Linked DNA regions of Homo sapiens: region 2 is linked to region 1. A link means that fine-mapping ties the variant in region 1 to the plasma level of a protein whose gene starts in the linked region. Region 1 holds a variant in brackets. A gene starts in the other region. All regions are shown on their forward strands.

Region 1 (9,528 bases):
GGTTGTACTAATTCATATTTCTACCAACAGTTCACAACAGTTCCCCTTCTGCCACGTTCTTGCTGACATTTATTATCTTTTGTCTTTTTGATAAAAGCCATTCTGACAAATCTGAGATATATCTCATTGTGATTTTAATTTGCATTTTCCTAATAATTAGAAATGTTGAACATTTTTCCACTTACCTGTTGGCCATTCGTGTGTCTTCTTTTGAAAAATGTCTATTCTTATGTATTTTTTTTAAAATATGGTCATAGCAGAAAATAACTTCAGTGTTAAACCACAGTTATCTCTGGGAGGTTGAATATTGTGTAATTAAACATTTTTAATTTTAAATTGTATATTTTTCATGTTTTCTATACTGAGTATCTTTCTTTTAGAATCAGAAAAATGTACAAATAATTTAAAACAAACGCCTTGAAAAATGAACAATCTTACCTAGTATTCAAAGAAATGCAAATTAAAATGTTATTTTTGTTTCTATCTCAGTAAATAAGGAAATATGGAGTAAAAGAGTAATCTTCCTGCTGAGCATGTTTTGCGGTTGCCAGCGCTGCCCCGGGTGTGTCTGGAGGAACACTCCCTGTTGCCTAACAACTGCTGTAATGTAACGGAAATAGAAGCACGATGCCACACATCCCTCAGAAAACGACTTGGCCCTTGGCCCTCCTGTGGATGAAGAGTATATTGAAGAGAAACTGGATATTTCTAAATTTGCTAAGACTCGCTTTTCTCACTTGCTCTCAGATCACACTACTTTTGAGTAGCCCAAAATTTTGTTGCCAACTCAGCAAGTTAAGCAAACAATATTACAAATCATGTTGAAACTGAAGTGGTCCCCATGGGCCAGTGAGTACGGTGCAGGTGGAGAAAAAATTAGCTGCTGAGTTAGGACAAACTGCTCCAATTTTGAAGGCACAAATGGGCATCATCTTGGGCCCGGGTACTACCCAAGGTGGACCTCTCAATCAGGCTCTTATGCTCCCAGGTGTAGTTGTTGGGTGAACTCTCTCCCTGGATGCTCAGGGACAGCATCTCAGAGAGAGGTGAATGGAAAAACCATGAGACCCTGTACACACTCTAGGTGCAATGGATTACAAGGGTTGATAGCTCTTCTTAGTAACCGAAAGCCTATATGCTCCATCTTTCTTGATGGCAAGGTCCCTGGGAAGGAGACATTCTCTTAGAATGTCATTAAATGACCATAGAATAAGCATGAAGTGAGTGGAATTATGTGGAAGGGATTCAGCATTTTACCCAAGCACTGGGCAGCCCCTGGGTGTGGCTGTCCCTCCACAGTGGCCTGTCTGTCTAAGTCTTGACCCACCCACCCAGATCCTCTTGGAAGCCACTGATAGCATTTGCCTCTGGGAATTCTGCAGCCTTTGCTGATGAGTCTCAGTTGACACCATCTATCATTGCAGATACAGATGTCTCCAAAAGGCAATTGCCAAAGGCTGTGCCACACAGCACACACCTGTCCATGTGCAGATTGATTCTGTTAAACTCTTCAGCTATCTTGTGGGCTGCTTTTCCCTGCCTCATTATCTGCCTGCAGACCTTCCTTCTGTGTTCTCTGCTCTTAGAGGTCAGATTGATCTGTATTTTTATCAAGATGAGGAAGGAGATGGTAGACTGTGAATCAAGGATCTACCTCTCCCAGTAATTCACTGTGGCATCTTGGGGCACCTGCTGGCCCTCTCTGAGCCTCCATTTTCTTACCCACGAAATGTGGATTTGGACCCAGTTATCTCCAACCACCCAAGAGTCTGTGATTCTGCTACTAAGAAAAGCAAAAGGCAAGTACAAGATAGCATGTGTTTAGTTGCTGGGGAAAGCTCAGTCTAATATTAAAAATAATAAGTATAAAAATAATCACCACCATTCACTCGAGCTTGCTTTGCCAGTTCTGCACTGTGATCTTTGCAGGGGTAATCTTACTGAATCCTCTGCTCCAACCCTACCAGGTGGGAACTACTTTTATCTTTATTTTTCTGATGAGGAGATTGAGCCTCAGAGATGTTAAGCAACCTGCCGAAGCAGAGAGTTAATATGTCGGGATTCATCACAGGCAGATCCCTCTGCTCTTGGGAAGCCCAGACCTCAGAAGCAGGAGTGGGTCTGATTCAGGTGTGCTCTGAGGGCCAGCTGTCCTTTCCAAAAATGCCTTCCTTTATTTAGACACCAACATCCTTGCTATTTTGGATTTTTCAATGAGCTTCCTTATTTTCTCCCTATTCTGTCCTATTCAGCAAAATGAATGAATAAATATAGGTTCCTAATGTTACAAATTTAATTTTCTTCTAGAAATGAAAGTGTTTATTTCTCTTCTTTTATTTCTCAAGCCAAAATAATTATTTCCTCCTTCTTAGAAGTCCAGGAATAGGTTAAACTTTAATTAAAAGTCTTATGGTTCAACAGTTGGAATGAGGATCAGGTAATAACGAAGAAACCCCGTAAACACCCTGAGGAGAACCAGCACCCCCTCCATTGGTTGTTTTAGCTCAGCCCACAGCTAACAGCTCAGCTCAGAAAGTTCCTACCACCCACTCCGCTTCTAACGCCTTTTAATATTCGCACAGAGTTTTCTCACATTGTGGCTCTCACACACTTCCTTTATACATGCTGTTTCCTCAGCCTGGAATGCCACCTCTTTCTTTACCTGGAGAACCCCTGTCCCTTAAAGACGCAGGTCAGAAGTCACGTAGTACTCCTCTGCTACCACCTAATGCAAAGCGTGATTATTCCTTCACTTCTCTTCTGCATTTAAATTATTGAGGGAAGAGGCTTGGTCTCATTGCCTTTGGAATAGCTCTGGATCTGCGTTCATGTTTTGTATATAATACGACTCAGTAAAGGTTGTGTAATATATGACTTTCATATGTGTGTATGCAAAGATAATGTGTTCCCATGCCCTTTGACTCAGTTTTCCCCATGGCAATGAATTTAACCACAGGAAATAATTGAATAGGAGAAAGAAGATTACACAGATGGAAGTTCTATAAAATATGTATTTGCTAAACATTGGAAACAAGTTAAATGTTTATCAATTGAGTAATGGCAAGTAAATTGGGGTACATGATCTTGAAGGAACATGACTTATTCTCTCATTCATTATACAAACATATAGACTGCCAAAGAGCTATCAGATACACAGCAATTTAACAGTTACCACATCTGACTTCAATGAATACACAGTCTGGTAGAGTCTTCTAAAATGATAATTACCAAACTACATAGAAAGCGAGCACTATTTGTGGTCTAACGTTAAGAGGAAAACAAATCAGATTATAAAACCATCTGTACATTACGATTGCAACTCTAAACATGTGAGAGTGTGAACAAGGTCTGGACGGGTGAATACAGGAATGACAATATTGATGTGGTTAGATTGGATGACTTTTTCTTTAGCATTATTACAATTGTTTTCGAGCTTTAAACTTTTAGATTGTTCCAAACGTTTCTAGGGGGGAAAAAAAAGCTGCTCCCATAGCCCTGGCTCCCCAGGTTGGCAGTAGCATGAATGATGGGGTATTTTCCCAGATGGGCAGGGGCTTGCCACAAGGTGACTGGGAGGGGATATTCAAGGCAGTCCAGGAGAGTTGGGTTACGGAAGGCTATCACTCTGTAGACTTGGGAGTGCTCACTGGGTGCCATCGTAAGAACCAGCCTCTTCTGTGTCTGGGCTATGCCACGCAGCAGCACCTGCAGGCTCTTCCAAGCTTTGTCAGCACCACAACTTGGGCACAGCACAGCAGTGCCAGGTGTGGAAAGCAGAAGTCTAAGAGGCAGACAAAAGGGTTGAGACCTGCAAGAGTTGGTGGCTAGTTCCTCATGCTGGAAAGGATGATCTCTATGTGAAAGGTACCTTATCCCTCTTCTACAGACCAGGAAACTGAAGCTTGATTTGTCCCAAGCTACTGGAGTTGGGGTTGGAATCCATCCCTTCTTATTTGGGGGCAGGGTTTTTCTATTTCCCTTACTGGCCTGGGAGCAGGTGGAGATGCATGAGGTCATATGGAAGAGACAGGCTGATAGGATGGGTGGAGTCCTTTGGGAAGGAGGAGGCAATGGGGAATCTATTGGTAGGACCCCATGGTGGACGTATGAGAAGCCAAGCATTTGAGTTTTGACTCGATGCAGTAGGCAGTGGGGAGCCCTTGCAGGTTTGGGGACATGATGGAAGAGGGCTTAATGAAGACGAGGCTGGTGTAATCAGGGGAGAGGCTGGATCAGGCACATGGTAAGGGTGATGTGTGGCATTTGTTTTGTGTAATCAGAATAGTACCCACCCATCCAACTTCTTGGAAATATGTATTTCTGCTTCTCCATGAGATTGGACTGGAAGCTTCCATCTTATATATCCCTTCCCCATGGATAACAGCACCTTCCAGGGATGGGCACCTGATACAAACTTGGCCTATCAGAGCACTTCCCTGGGAATTTTGCCCTTGGGGCCAGAGAAACATGGGTGTCAGTCCCTCTCTGGTGATAAAGCTGTGTCATGTAAAGTCTGGGGGATCTATAATGACTAAAAGATTTGAGAGTCAGAGAGAGGGAATTCTAGCTTGGCTCAGGCCCTGGTTTCCCCTCACTTTGAGGGCTCAGACACCCTTTTGCTTGTGCCACAATATGAACAATATTCACCACCCTCATTTAACTAAACTAGTCTGAGTTGAATTTTTGTCATCTGCAAACCAAAAAGTTCTGATGACATTTGCAGTAAGAGAAATGTCTACTCTTTGTCATTCAAAGAGTTCAATTTGTTCATTCTTCAAATTTTGAGCACAATTCTCAACAACACTCTAGGGTTGTTTTGTGTGCATTGGGTCCATCATTTTGTGCCTGTAAGAAATAACAACAAAAATCTTTCCTCACTAGTCAGCATCAGGTTCAGGAACTCCAGGTTCTCTGTAGACACAAGGCTTTGGGATTCCCTTCAGAGAAGGAGCAATGCATCTCCATCACTCGTGTGGTAAGTAAAATTGCTGCTCAGAACACTTCCATGCCTGCTCCTTTGTGATTCAGATGAGGAGAAATCAACGTGGACTGAGCGCCCACACAGGACAGCCAGGCATTTCCCATACAGGTGGTAAAGGTATCTTCTGAACTTCTCCCCAGCAAATGCATAGATGAGAGGATTCAGGCAACAATGGCTAAATGCAACC[G/A]TCTCAGTCACACTGAGGGCCAGCCTCAGATCCTTCCTCATGTCACAACTGGGAAAGAAGTCATAGAGCTTAAGCGTCTCCAGGAAAATCATAACGTTGTAGGGTGTCCAGAAGAGGAAAAACACGATGACCACCAGAAGGATCAGTTTAATGGCTTTGGCTTTCTTGTGGTTCTTGCAGGAAAACAGCGTCTGGATGATTCTGAAGTAGCAATAACTCATAATGAGCAGGGGGAGTAGGAAGCCAAGAAAATTTGTTTCCACATTGCGGAGCACGGGCCAGATTTCCTGGAGGACCTCGGGGTAGTCACCAAGGCATTCATTTTCTTTCTGCTTTGTGAACATGAACTGGGGTGCTGCCACCAAAATGGCTGCTGCCCAGACGCCTAGGCTGATGGTGACGCCATGCTGCACGGTCCGGTTGTTCATGGAGTTGGCGGCCAGGACGATGGCCAGGTACCTATCAATGCTGATGACGGTGATGAAGAATATGCTTCCAAAAAAGCCGATGAAGAAGAAGGCGGTAGTGAATTTGCACATGGCATTGTGGAGGCCCTTTTCATTTATCAAATAGTGAGTCCAGAAGGGCAAAGTGGCTACAAACAGCAGATCAGACAAGGCCAGGTTCAGGAGGTAAATGTCGGTGACACTCTTGGGCTTCTTGCTGTTGGTGAGGGCAAACACTACCAACAAATTTCCCACCAGGCCAATGGCAAAGATGACGGAGTAGAATATGGACAGGAACACAGTCCCAAAGACCACGATGTCCCCAATATAACAGGCCTCAGCCAAATCATCGTACTCAAAGTTTTCTGTCACTGATTCAGGGAACTGATCCATGGTGAAGGCCTGGATCAGAAAGAAAAACAAGTAACTGTGTTAGTTATCAGAGAAACAAAGTTGGAATTCTGTGTGGCCTCATATGTAGGCAGGCAGGAAGAAACAAATATTGGTTGGGTGCACACTACATTTCCCAACTTCCCACTTGCCATCTTGTTTAATCCCCACAACAGTCTTGTGATGAAGACTGCAACAGACTCTTCTGACAGGAGAGGCGGACTCCTTTGACTTGCCCAAAGCCATGCAGTAAATGGCTCTGTGAGCATTTGGCTCTAGGCATTTTTTTTTTTTTAAATGGAGTCTCGCTGTGTCACCCAGGCTGGAGTGCAGTGGTGCGATCTCAGCTCACTGCAACCTCTGTCCCCTGGGGTTCAAGCGATTCTCCTGCCTCAGCCTCCCAAATAGCTGGGATTATAGGCGTGCACTACCACGCCTGGCTAATTTTTGTATTTTTAGTAGAGATGGGGTTTCATCATGTTAGCCAGGCTGGTCTCAAACTCCTGACCTCAGATTATCCTTCCGCCTCAGCCTCCCAAAATGCTAGGATTACAGGCGTGAGCCACAGCGCCCAGCCAGCTCTAGGCTTTTTGAAGCTTGAGACAGATCTGTTTTACTTTTACTGCCCAAAATCTCTCCAAAAGCTAGCTAGTTTGACCAATGTGTGGATGAGAAAGGGAGAACCATGAGCAGGAGGGGGAGGGGGGTGAGATGGGGTGAATTGGGGGTGCAGCTGTAATTCACACTTCCAGTCCAAACTTCCCCAAAGCAATTCTCCATCCTCTTCCTTTGTTTCCACCTTTTCCACCCTCTGGCCCCTTACTTTTCCATGAAGCTAGGCCTGGAGAGAGAAGCCTCAGACCCAGAGCCTTGGGCAGAACAGCACCCGGAAGCCCTCATCTTTGTTTTTTGAGAACCATTTCACCTCCTCTTCTCCTTATAATCAACAAGTCCTTCTCTTTCTTAGCAGGTATCAGACAGAGTCATACACTCTAGAGTGACTACCTTGTTTTGGGCTGCCCAGGACTTTCCTGGTTTTAGCCCTGAAAGTCCCATCTATTGGGAACCCCTCAGTCCCAGGCAAATCAGGACTGTTGGTCATCCTACAACGCTAAGTGAAGAGAAGGTGTTGCCATCATTCAGGACTCTGCAGTCATAGAGGGGCTGACTGATTCAAGATGGAGGATGGGGCTCCGTTAGTCTGCTGGGCTAGTCTCCGGGTGACTAATTCCCCCTACGATTACCAGCCCTATAGTTCACTTTGGTTTGGACTTCCCCACTATTCTTATCTCCTGTTTCCTTCTGAGCAGGAATTGAAAAAAGAAGACACTTCTGCAGGCTGCACTCCCCTTCTTTTCGCAGCCAGGACTTGCTGCTCATTCACTCCAGAGCCGGCTGGGAGGCAGCCCTTTCACACGGCTCCTCTGGGCGTCTCCTCGTGATACCACAGATGGGTCCCTCAGAAACCCTCAAAACAGGCCTCCTGGTTGTCACTGCCTCCCTCCTTACCACAACTTACAGCAAAGCTCACGCTTTAACCGAGGGAGTTTCCACGCCCCACTACACCCTTTCCATGATGGTTTTACCCAGGTGGTGTCTCACCAAGATGAGGGCCCACCCAGCCAGGGTGTGTCACTTCTCGCTTCCCAGCCTCTGCTTTGGGGCCTGCATCTCACCCAGACTCTCCTGGGATAAGTGGGCCGGGGCTTTACAACCTAAGCTGTCTCAGGCTGTGATGAGTTCTCAACCCCAGGGAACGTGTATGCTTTCTCTGCTTCAGGCTACAATGCCCTTTTCTCAGAGAATAATCTCTGGCTGTGACGTTAATTAATAACATTTAAGTCAAATGGTATAAAATGGCTGACATACAGCTATTTTTGAGCCACATCCATGTCAGTTTTATATGACTCAAGCTAATATGTGGGAAACAGAAATTGCTACTTAGTGCCTGCAGCTTGTCACAGAGCATGATCTTCCCAGACAAGCTGCTGTATGAGTAAAAATAGTCAAGTCCTTGGTGGTTCTATGTTAGGGACCCTGGAGCTAGCTACTTTCTCCCTCCCCTTCCCCCAGTGAGAAGAGCTGGCAAAGCCGACCTCGAGAGGTGGCCAAATCCAGTAAAAATTGTCTCGCATCTCTTTATGTGCCTGTGGTCGGTCCTTCAGCACAGGAACTTCTGTGGACTCGGGCACTCCCGAGATTGAATCCTGCATCTGTCCTCTCTGGCTGAGTGATGGGTGAGCTTGAAACCTCTGAGCCTAACATTCCTTGTCTGTAAGATCGGGATTCATTCTCATGCCTGCCCACAGAACTGTTTTAAGGGGAGCACCTGGCACAGTGTGTCACATACAGCAAGCACTTAATACATGTTCAATTTGTTTCCTGCATTATGTGAGGAAGCAAAAGCCCTTTGGATCTTTGGAAACATCCAGGCTGCCTGTGGACTCCCATGTTCCACCTCCACCCTGGGTATCCTGGGAATTTGGTCTTTAAAGGTCACTTTATTTTTTTTTCCCCCTGAAATAAGACATGCTTTCTTTTCAGATTATTTTGGGGGAGGTAAGCCACCCTTTATTGAGCTTTTACTAAACTGTCAGGCTCATTGCTCTGTTTGGATTAATATTGATCTAATCCGTTCTGCAATTCTGAAAAAAAAAAGTTCTATATTTAATTCACTGCACTGCTGAATGCCTCTGGGGATATTCATGATGAGAGGAAGGAATGGGACAAATGTGGAGAAGGAAGGGAAAGTTAGAAATAAGCAACTGATTGCCTGGTGGAGTGGCAGAGGGGTCCCAAATCAGGCCCTTTGCCTTACTGGGTGCTTGGGCTCAGGGCTGCCACGTGCACAGGGGCATCTCTAATTTGCACCAAGTCTCCATATAAGCTGGGGGTGGTCTGGCTTGGCAAGGAGCTCATGAAAAGATCAGTCAGGTACAGTCTAAGCCAGGAAGGGGCTTGTCTTCTCAATGGGGAAAATTCACATAAAGACTTTGATTAAGACAGAATGGAAGAAGTGGGTGAATGTATCTTCTGCAGATGGGATGCAAATTCAGATAATGCTCTGGGCAGGATGGTTTTGCCTGATACGTGGTGATATTATGTATTGAGAGCCAAATGGCTGGTTATGGGCATCCATCTGGCTTGGGACTGCTCCCTGCCATCCAGGGGGTCTGCTCAGTGAGGGCAGACGAACACTCTGCAGCCCTCATCCTAGCTCCCTGCTGTCTCAGAGTCCCCAGTGAAGACCCTAGAATTGCTGTGGCTCCCACAGGAGTCTCTCAGTGCTGGCACAGTGGGTGCATGCAGTGGGTGCTCACCCAGCATATCATGGTCCCTGCTATGAGCCATCTGGACCATGCTACAGAGGAAAGAGCAGTACCAATATCGCTTTCTATGAGTTCCCACGTGACTCTGAGGAACAGCACTGGTCATTGAGGGACATTTTTGATCTTCATGTTCACATTTCCATTTTGCACACACTGTGCCTCACAGGAGGCACAGCTGGGTGAAGCACCTGGCCC
Region 2 (8,784 bases), not on the chromosome of region 1:
TAACTGGGTGTGGCGGCGTGCGCCTGTAGTCCCAGCTATATTTGGGAGGCTGAGGCAGGAGAATGGCGTGAACCCAGGAGGCAGAGCTTGCAGTGAGCCGGGACGGCGCCACTGCACTCCAGCCTGGGTGACAGAGCGAGATTCCGTCTCAAAAAATAAAATAAAATAAAATAAAATAAAAATAAATGAATAAAATAAAAAAGAAAGGGAGTGAGGGAGAGAAGAAAGGAGGCAGGAAGAAGGAAAGAGGGAGAGAGGAGAAACCACAAAATACATTTTGGGGACAATTGGAGAAATTTGGGTATGAACTGGGTGTTAGATGACATACAGGAATTATTGTTAATTTTGTTAGATGGGATAATGATATTACATGTATGTAAGACAATAGCTTTATTCTAAGGAGATGCATGCTGGAATATTTAGGGGAAAAGTGTCAAGCATCTATAATTTACTTTGTAATGGTTTGGCTAAAAAATAAAAATAAAAAAGATAAAACAAATATTAAAAAATGCTAATCATTGGTGGTAGAGGTTTTGTTTGTTTGTTTGTTTGTTTGTTTGAGGCAGAGTTTCTCTCTTGTTGCCCAGGCTGGAGTGCAGTGGTGCAATCTCGGCTCACCGCAACCTCTGCCTCCCGAGTTCAAGCAATTCTCTCCCAGCCTCCCAAGTAGCTGAGATTACAGGCACCCGCCACCACACTCAGCTAATTTTTTGTATTTTTAGTAGAGACGGGGTTTCACCATGTTGGCCAGGCTGGTCTCCAACTCCTGAGCTCTGGTGATCCACCCACCTCGGCCTCCCAAAGTGCTGGGATTATAGGCGTGAGCCACTGCGCCCAGCCATTGGTGGAGATTTGAAAGTCTTTGTACGATTCTTTCTTTTGTATTGTTGAATATTTTCCAAAACAGAAATTTTAAAGAGACAAAGCAAAATTCTGCCCATCTTCAGATGGAAAGATCATCTCTCTCACCCACCTTTCTTGTTTCCCCAACAAGCATGCAGTTCTCCCTTCCTGCCCGAGCCCACAGCCTCTAGCCCTCTGGTAGGGCTGGCAACTTCTCTCTCCTACTGAGCTACAGCTCCTGGGGGCAAGGACTTCAGCTCACTTGCCTTTGTGTCCCCCATCCCACCACATTGCCTGGCACACACCGGGCTCAATAACAGATACTAATGCCTCCTGCGTGCCAGGCACTGTGAAAGTCCTTAGTTTTATTCACTGTCGTGGTGGCTTGATGAGGTGGCTGTTTGCATCCCATTTTACATATAGGGAAGCTGAAATGCAGAGAGAGGTTAAGTCACTTGCCCAAGGGAACACCCCTTATCCGTGGTGGAGTCCTGCTGATGTATTTATTTATTTTTTTTCAGATAGGGTCCCACTCTGTGCCCAAGCTGGAGTGCAGTGGCATGATCATGGCTCAATGCAGCCTCAACCTCCCCAGGCTCACTTGATCCTTCCACTTTAGCCTCCTGAGCAGCTGGGACTGCAGGCACAGGCCACCACACTAATTTTCGTATATTTTTTGTAGGGAGGGGGTTTCACCATGTTTGTAGAGAGGGGGTTTTGCCAGGCTGGTCTCAGATTCCCGGGAATCTGCCTCTGCCTCCTGCCTCGGCCTCCCAAAGTGCTGGGATTACAGGTGTGAGCCACCACATCCGGCCTGGAGTCCTGTTTAGCCTTGGGTCTGGCTAGCCTGAAAGCCTGGTTATTGTGTCCAAATTAAATCTAAATTCAGTTCTTAACATCCTAATGAGATAGATGGGGGTGATCATTCCCATTTTATGGGAGTAGAAGCTGGACCTGGGGAGGGTAGAGGGTGTCCAAAGGGTCAAATGAGGAAAAGCAGAGCCGTGCTTTGCATTTTCGCTTCTATTTTATGCCAGGCTCTGTCCCGTACCCTATGGACATAAACTCACTTAGTCTTCACATTGGTCCTCGCAGTGAGGGTGGAGGCAGGTGGTGGACCCTACTGGTCTTGAGCTCAGACCTCAGAGCCAGCTGGCTGGGACGAATCCAGGATCCCTCATTTCCTGGCTGGTGAACCTAAGAAAATGTCTTTTTTTTTTTTTTTTTTTAGACAGAGTCTCACTCTGTCACCCAGGCTAGAGTGCAGTGGCGTGATCTTGGCTCACTGCAACCCTCTGCCTCCCAGGTTCAAGCGATTCTCCTGCCTCAGCCTCCCAAGTAGCTGGGATTACAGGTGTGCACCACACCCAGCTAATTTTTGTATTTTTAGTAGAGACGAGGTTTCACCGTGTTGGCCAGGCTGGCCTCGAACTCCTGACCTCAGGTGATCCACCCACCTCAGCCTCCCAAAGTGCTGGGATTACAGGCGTGAGCCATCGCACTCGGCCTCCTCCTCTGTTCTTACATGAACAGAGCAGAAAGAACACGACCTCAGTTTTTATCCCTCCTTGTCCCTCTCTGGGCCTCAGTTTCACCAGTTATAAAAAGAGGGATTGGACATTGGGAATGAGAAGGCTACTAGCTTCCCATGTGCACAGGCCAGGACAGATTCTCTGAGCATGAGTGGACCTTGGCTCCTGCCAAGGGTGTTCCGCTACTTCAAGAAGTATCTAGCCTCCTAACCCCTAACCCCATGCACCAGGCAGCCCATTGGGTTGGGTGGGGGGGCGGGGGGGGGTGGTTGAGGAGAGAGAGGTCCCTGGCCTTGGGATCTGTGGCCCCTCTGCCCAGCCCAACTGGCTCATAGCGTGGGATGCTGGCTCCACAACTGGTTTCCCTCAGATTGGCAGCCTGGAGACACCAGTACAGCTCAGTCCTATACCAAGGCAGAGCTGCTGACTCTTCTGGAGTCTCAGGGATTGTTGCCACTGCCTTTAGGGAAGGCTGCCATGAAGGCAGACTGTGTTCTAATGTGCTCCCAAGGCTGGCAAGCCTCTGCACCCTTCGGTGAGAGCCTGTTGGAGGGCCGGTGCTGGGAAGCCCTCTCCCCATTGCACTAGCCCAATGCTCTCTTTGGGCAGATAGAGAACTCAGGCCCCACGAGAGGCAAGCCTTATCCAAGCCACGGCTACAGAGTTGAGGAGCCAAGAGCCACAGAGTTATCGGGGATGGGTTGGCAGCCACCTTGTTCTTTGGGCTAACAGGGGCCAGAGCAGAGGTGGGAGTGGGTGCAAAGCAGGGAGCGGGAGACCGGGAGGTGGAGGCAGGGAGGCCAGGGCTCTCTCCTGGGTCCTGAGCTGTCCACATTCTGCTCATCATGGTGGTGGGAGGGGAGTTCTCCACTCTGATGCTGTGGATAACCTGGGGTGGCTCCGGGCCTCAGTTTCCCCATCTATCCATATGAAGTTGGACTCAATCCTTCTTTCAGCAGACCCTGCACCAAGCCCCTGCTGACTTCAGGCTCCCTGCTGGGCTCTGGAGATGCATAGATCAACAAGGTCCCCCAGGAGCTTGGGATTCTAAGAGGGGAAATTTAGGGGTCCATCCTGATGTGGGCGAGGCATTCTCTGGATCAAAGAAGAGCTTGTCAGACCCAGGATGGAGGGGCCCTGAGTCTCTCCCGGCCCCTTGGCGCCCCGCTCTCTATTCCACGGCCTGCTGGCCTTTTGTGTGTTGCCCACTTAGGATCAAGGGCCCCAGGCCAGATCCTAGGGCATGTTCCCAGCTTGTGGCAGGAGAGGAGGCCTTTGTACCCAGGCAGGCCCAGTCCAGCCTCCCGGGGAAGGTCCCAGTATGACAAGCCTAGGATGGTGAGAAGCCCAGGGACACAAAGCCGGCTTGGTTCCTTGGCAACATCCTGAGGAATCCAGCGGCTGCACACTGGCTCCCTTCCTCTCCCCTCCCACCCTCCTGCCTGCGGGGGCTGGAGGCGGAGGCAGCCAACCCCATTATAAAAAGCCACAGATCTCTGGCGGCGGCAAGGGGACAGCACTGAGCTCTGCCGCCTGGCTCTAGCCGCCTGCCTGGCCCCCGCCGGGACTCTTGCCCACCCTCAGCCATGGCTCCGATATCTCTGTCGTGGCTGCTCCGCTTGGCCACCTTCTGCCATCTGACTGTCCTGCTGGCTGGTAAGTGGGGCTTGACTTGGGCACAAACAGGGTAGGGAGCCCCCAGCCCCTTGTCTATCCCTCAAGCCTGACATCAGGGGCCCCAGACCCTGCCTGGGTAAAGCTCAAGGCCGGTGGCAGCCGCTTCCCCAGGGATGTGCGAGAGGGGGCTGGGCACCTCGCTTCCCCCAGATGCAGCGCTGGACAGATTTCCAGTTGCCAGCGACCGCCCTGCCTGGCCCAGCGAGCAAAGTGGCTGTGCCTGGAAGCACAGAGAGGTGGTGTGGGTGGCATAAGGGAGCCAGGTGTGGGTGTGCCAGGAGGGCGGGGGTGGAGAGAGCCTGCAGAAGCTCCTGCTGGGCACTGGGGTGGGAGGCCCTGGCTGACAGTGGCTGGCTCTTTCCATCAAGCGTTAATGTGTAACCCGCAGCCCTGGCCCTGGGCCAGGCCACAGTTGGGACTTTCTCCTGTCCTGTTTTCAAAGCCCCCAGGATTAGGGGGCCCAGGACCAGTGAAGGTCAAGGTCACTGCAGCTCATGGTTGGGGCTTGCCACTGCTGTGCTAGTCTATAGCCCCAGTTGCTCTGCCTGTGTCTACCCGTCATGCTGTCTTCCTCCTCCAAGCACAGTGTAGAAAATGCTTTTGCCTCTAGTCACTTGCTTACTGAAGCCCAGGACCTGGTAGGGGTACATAATTAACCATCCTACCTGATATGGATAAGATGGAGGCCCAGAGAGGTTTAGAAACTGGCCTGACAATGCACAGCCAGCAAGTAGGGCAGGAGAAGGTAAGACACATGGGACTGAATGCAGGAGAGAGCACAGATGCACACTCACCACCTCTGTGGGCCACATCACCTCCATGAACCGCTAGCCAGCCCCCTCCTCAGGGAGTGCCCCCACCATCTGGCAGGGTGACCTTCAGAGAAGGTGGGCACACAGCAAGTCTGGGAGAATGAGAAGTAGTCCCCACTGTCCAGATATTTCCATGGAGCAAACTCACCCTGGGGCAGGGAGCAGGTGTGTGGGTGGGTGGGCACGTGAGAGTGGTGGAGGCAAATTCCTGCTGGCTTCCTGCTGTCTGGGCTGGGGCCCTGAAGCCTGAGGTGTCTGCGGACAGTGAGATCTGGAAAGCAGGGAGTCAGATGGCGGCTGCTTTGCCACAGTCCTGTTATGTGACCGTGAGCAGGGTCTTGCCTCCTCTGGTCCCAGTTGCTGCATCTTTAAATATAGCTATTACCTCTCCGGTGGATTGGGGGAGGGTGACGAGGTTCCAATGCCTATGGAGGTGTTTTGAAGAGGGCGGAGGAGGAGGATTACTTTTACTAAGCTGAGAGAGGGAAGGGTCCTAGGCTAGGATGGAAAGGGGACACTGGGGGACCCTGGGTGCTCAGACTAGCAGCCTGAGGCTTTAGAACCAGGCTTCTGCCCTCATCTTGGTCATTGGCTTTACTGGAAGATCCTGGGCATTATTGGAACCTTTCTCAGCCTCACTTTCTCCTCCTGTAAAACTAGGCATTTGACCAGGCTCACCTTGGAAGTCCTCTCCCACGCTGACATGTATGGCTCTGAGAGGCCCTCGGGAGCCCCTGTAGGACAAGGGGGTGGTTTGGAAGCCAGAGAGACCCCGAGAGGAGGCTGGGGGGTTCGTAGCTGCTGCCCTGACTAGTGTGGGGCAGCTGCGTCAGTCCCCAAATGTGGGTTTGTGGGGCTGTGTCAGGCAGGAGGCTTCTGTACTTTATATAACAAACCTGCAGCTACGAGTCAGTGCAGAGCATTGCCCCCCCACTCCAAGAGCTGACGCATTCACTCCCACTCAAGTCCTGGCAAGAAAGAGAAAAAAAAACGAATCTGTTTTAAGCTCCTATAGCCTACCCGCCTCATTAGCAGTGGGGGTGGATGGGGAGGGCATGGGAGGATAAATTCAAGAGTGTCAGATCCAGGCCCCTGTCTAATTTAAATAAAAATTCCTCCATTTTTCTGTTGGTTAAGGTATTATGCCACAAAGCGCTTCCTTAGGCATTTTGTCCATTCATTCAACAAATAGTTATTGGACACCTACTGTGTGACAAACCTGGTTCTAGGTACTGGGGCGGCATCAATAAATAAAACAGCCAAGGACCTCAGCCCTCGAGGTGCTGTAATTCAACTGCAGAGGACACATAACACACAAAGTAAATCAGTAAACAATGTGGTCTGTTGGAAGGAGAAAAGGCACTGTGATAAAAAAATAGAGAGGGGTGGCTGGGCGCAGGGGCTCATGCCTGTAATCCCAGCACATTGGGAGGCCAAGGCGGGCAGATCACCTGACGTCAGGAGTTCAAGACCAGCCTGGCCAACATCATGAAACCCTGTCTCTACTAAAAATATAAAATTAGCTGGGTGTGGTGGTGCATGCCTGTAGTCCCAGCTACTTGGGAGGCTGAGGCAAGAGAATCGCTTGAACCTGGGAGGCAGAGGTTGGAGTGAGCCGAGATCGTGTCACTGCACTCCAGCCTGGGTGACAGAGTGAGAGTCCATTTAAAAAAAAAAAAAAGAAAGAAAAGAAAAGAAAAAGAAAAATAGAGAGGGGAGAAGAGAGGTGTTGACATTTTAAATAGGGGGTTAGGGAAGCCCACTGAGTAGGTGGCTTTGCACAGTTTGGAGCGGGGTGAGGGCGGGAGCCATGTGGATATCTCTAGAGCAATGGTCCTCAGTGAGTAATTTTGCTCCCCTATGGGCCATTTGGCAATTTCTAGAGAAATTTTTTACTTGTTACAAATATCCCAATGTTTTTGGTTCAGTTGAGCTACTCGCCTCTAGTGTGTAGAGGCCAGAGATGCTGCCAAACCTCCTATAGTACCCGGGACAGCCCCCAAAACAAAGAATTGTCTGGTCCAAAATGTCAGTAGTGTCACTGTTGAGAAACCTTGCCCTAAGGGAAAAATGCTCCAGAAGTTAAAAAATTCTTATTCTCACAACCACACTGTGAAGCAGGTATTGTCACATCCATTTTACAAGTAAGGAAACTGAGGCTCAGGGAGTCCGAGTGACTTGCTCAGGACACACAGCTGGGCAATGGCTCAAGCCCTCCCTTTATCACCTCATCCAGCAACCCAGGACATTTCCTGAGTCTCCTTCTAAGACCCTGGAAGACTCTTAGAAGTCCTTGAGGTCCAGCCTAAAGGAGAATTCCTCCAAGAAGCCTCCCCTGACCATTTGAAGTTGGAAGTGGTCTCTCCCTCATGTAAACCCCAATATGTTTGTGGTATGTTCTGGAACACTGTGTTTCTACCTGGCATCTAGGGTAGCCTAGAACAGTGGGGTGTTTAGGGGCTGAGTAGAAAACTAGCTCTGCCACCATGCAGCTGTGTGGCACTGGGCACATTTAGCCTCTCTTATTTCCAGCTTCTGCATCTGTAAAGTTGGGATAATACTCCCTTTGCAGGAATGTTGGGAATTAAAGAGAGCAGATGTGTACATGCTGGACACAGGGTCCAATACACAGTAGGTGTTCAATTAAAAAAAATAAATAAAACCTCTGATACTTTGTGTGCCTAATTTACCTGTCCATCAGGCTGGGAGCCTTCTGAGGCCAGAGGCATTCCTTGTTCATCTCACTGTACCTCACAGCACCCAGCACAGGGCCTGGCAAGAGGAACCAGCATTTGTTGGTTGACTGAATAAACAGAGTGATCTGATGGCATTTATTGGGATGGAAGCACTCTCTTCAAACTCAGCACCAGTGCCTATGGGAGAAAGAGCTCAAGGTTAAGGATAAGAGGGCCTGAGATTTTTGTATATACTCAAAAGTAATTCCAGCCAGTGTTGGCTGAATCAGGAAGTGGATGGATGGATGGATGGATGGATGGATGGATGGATGGATGGATGGATGGGTGGATAGATGGATGAATGGATGGATGGATGGATGGGTGGATGGATGGACAGATGGATGGATGGAAGAAGGGATGGGGAGGGGATGATGAGGGATGGATGAGTAGGTGAGATAAAAGGGGGCGGAAGATTGACAGGTGGTAGGTAGGGGAGAGGGAGTGGGTAGATGGATGAATGGAGATGAATAGGGGTTGGGCAGGAGGTGGCAGGTGGGCGAGGAATGGGTAGAAGATTGATAAGAGTGGGTGGACGGGTGGATGGATAGGTAGATAGATGCATTAAAGAGAGATAAGTAAACTGAGACTAATTTCATTCAATGAATATTGATTGAGTATCCACCTTGTGCTTGATGCTGGGAAACTATGATACCAAGACAGACAAGGTCCCTGCCTTCCTGACACTCCTATGACAGATAATATATGACTGGCTGGATGAGGCATTGTCTCCATTTACAGAAAGGAAAATTTCAGCTCTGAGAAGGGACAGGCTCCCCAGGTCAGTTAAACAATCTTCCTGGCAGAACCAAGAACTGAGCCGGGCCAGGACCATTCAGGGACCGTGGCAGAGGGTGGGGACTTTGGAGACAGGATGACTCTGTGGCTCTTTAAAGCCCTGGAGGTGGGCAATGGCTTTTCCCATCTTGGATTTGGGGAGCACAGAATGGACCTTCTTTCCTATCCATTGGGCAGCCTCCCTTGCCTCCTCCTGTCTCTGGTCACTCAGGGGCACCGTATTTTCTGGGGCTTCCCAAAGAAGACACCTGCAGGCCATTTTAGGGGACTGCCACCTGGCTCCACTCAATAGGGCCTGGGGAGGCTGCAGGTGAGTCAGTCTGAGGTTCCATTGCAGAAGGAGGGTGGCCAGCCCACACAGTGACTTTTATATCCTGGTTACTCAGAGAG

Direction of the effects. Alleles are on the strand shown, and positions count from the first base shown. The strength of an association depends on the size of the effect and on how common the allele is.
In carriers of allele A in region 1, the plasma level of the protein whose gene starts at base 3,883 in region 2 tends to be higher than with G alone (weak association).

Evidence for each region. PIP is the chance, under the fine-mapping model, that this variant and not a neighbour inherited with it causes the effect. Protein levels are from antibody-based Olink assays in UK Biobank. Linkage for the fine-mapping came from a reference panel and not from the study's own genotypes, which makes the PIPs less certain.
Region 2: it holds the start of CX3CL1, and the variant in region 1 is fine-mapped to the plasma level of the CX3CL1 protein (UK Biobank, PIP above 0.99).

Annotation. Positions count from the first base shown.
Region 1 is chr3:39,260,503-39,270,030 of GRCh38, forward strand. CX3CR1 (C-X3-C motif chemokine receptor 1) reads right to left here. Exons shown (of 2, transcript NM_001337.4): 2 at 2,994-6,016. The coding sequence starts at 6,007. The coding sequence ends at 4,940. Among named protein-coding and RNA genes, the nearest start is that of CX3CR1, 15 kb to the right of the region's middle. The variant G/A (reference allele first, on the strand shown) is at 5,169.
Region 2 is chr16:57,368,608-57,377,391 of GRCh38, forward strand. It overlaps CX3CL1 (C-X3-C motif chemokine ligand 1), which reads left to right and starts at 3,883. Exons shown (of 3, transcript NM_002996.6): 1 at 3,883-4,031. The coding sequence starts at 3,962.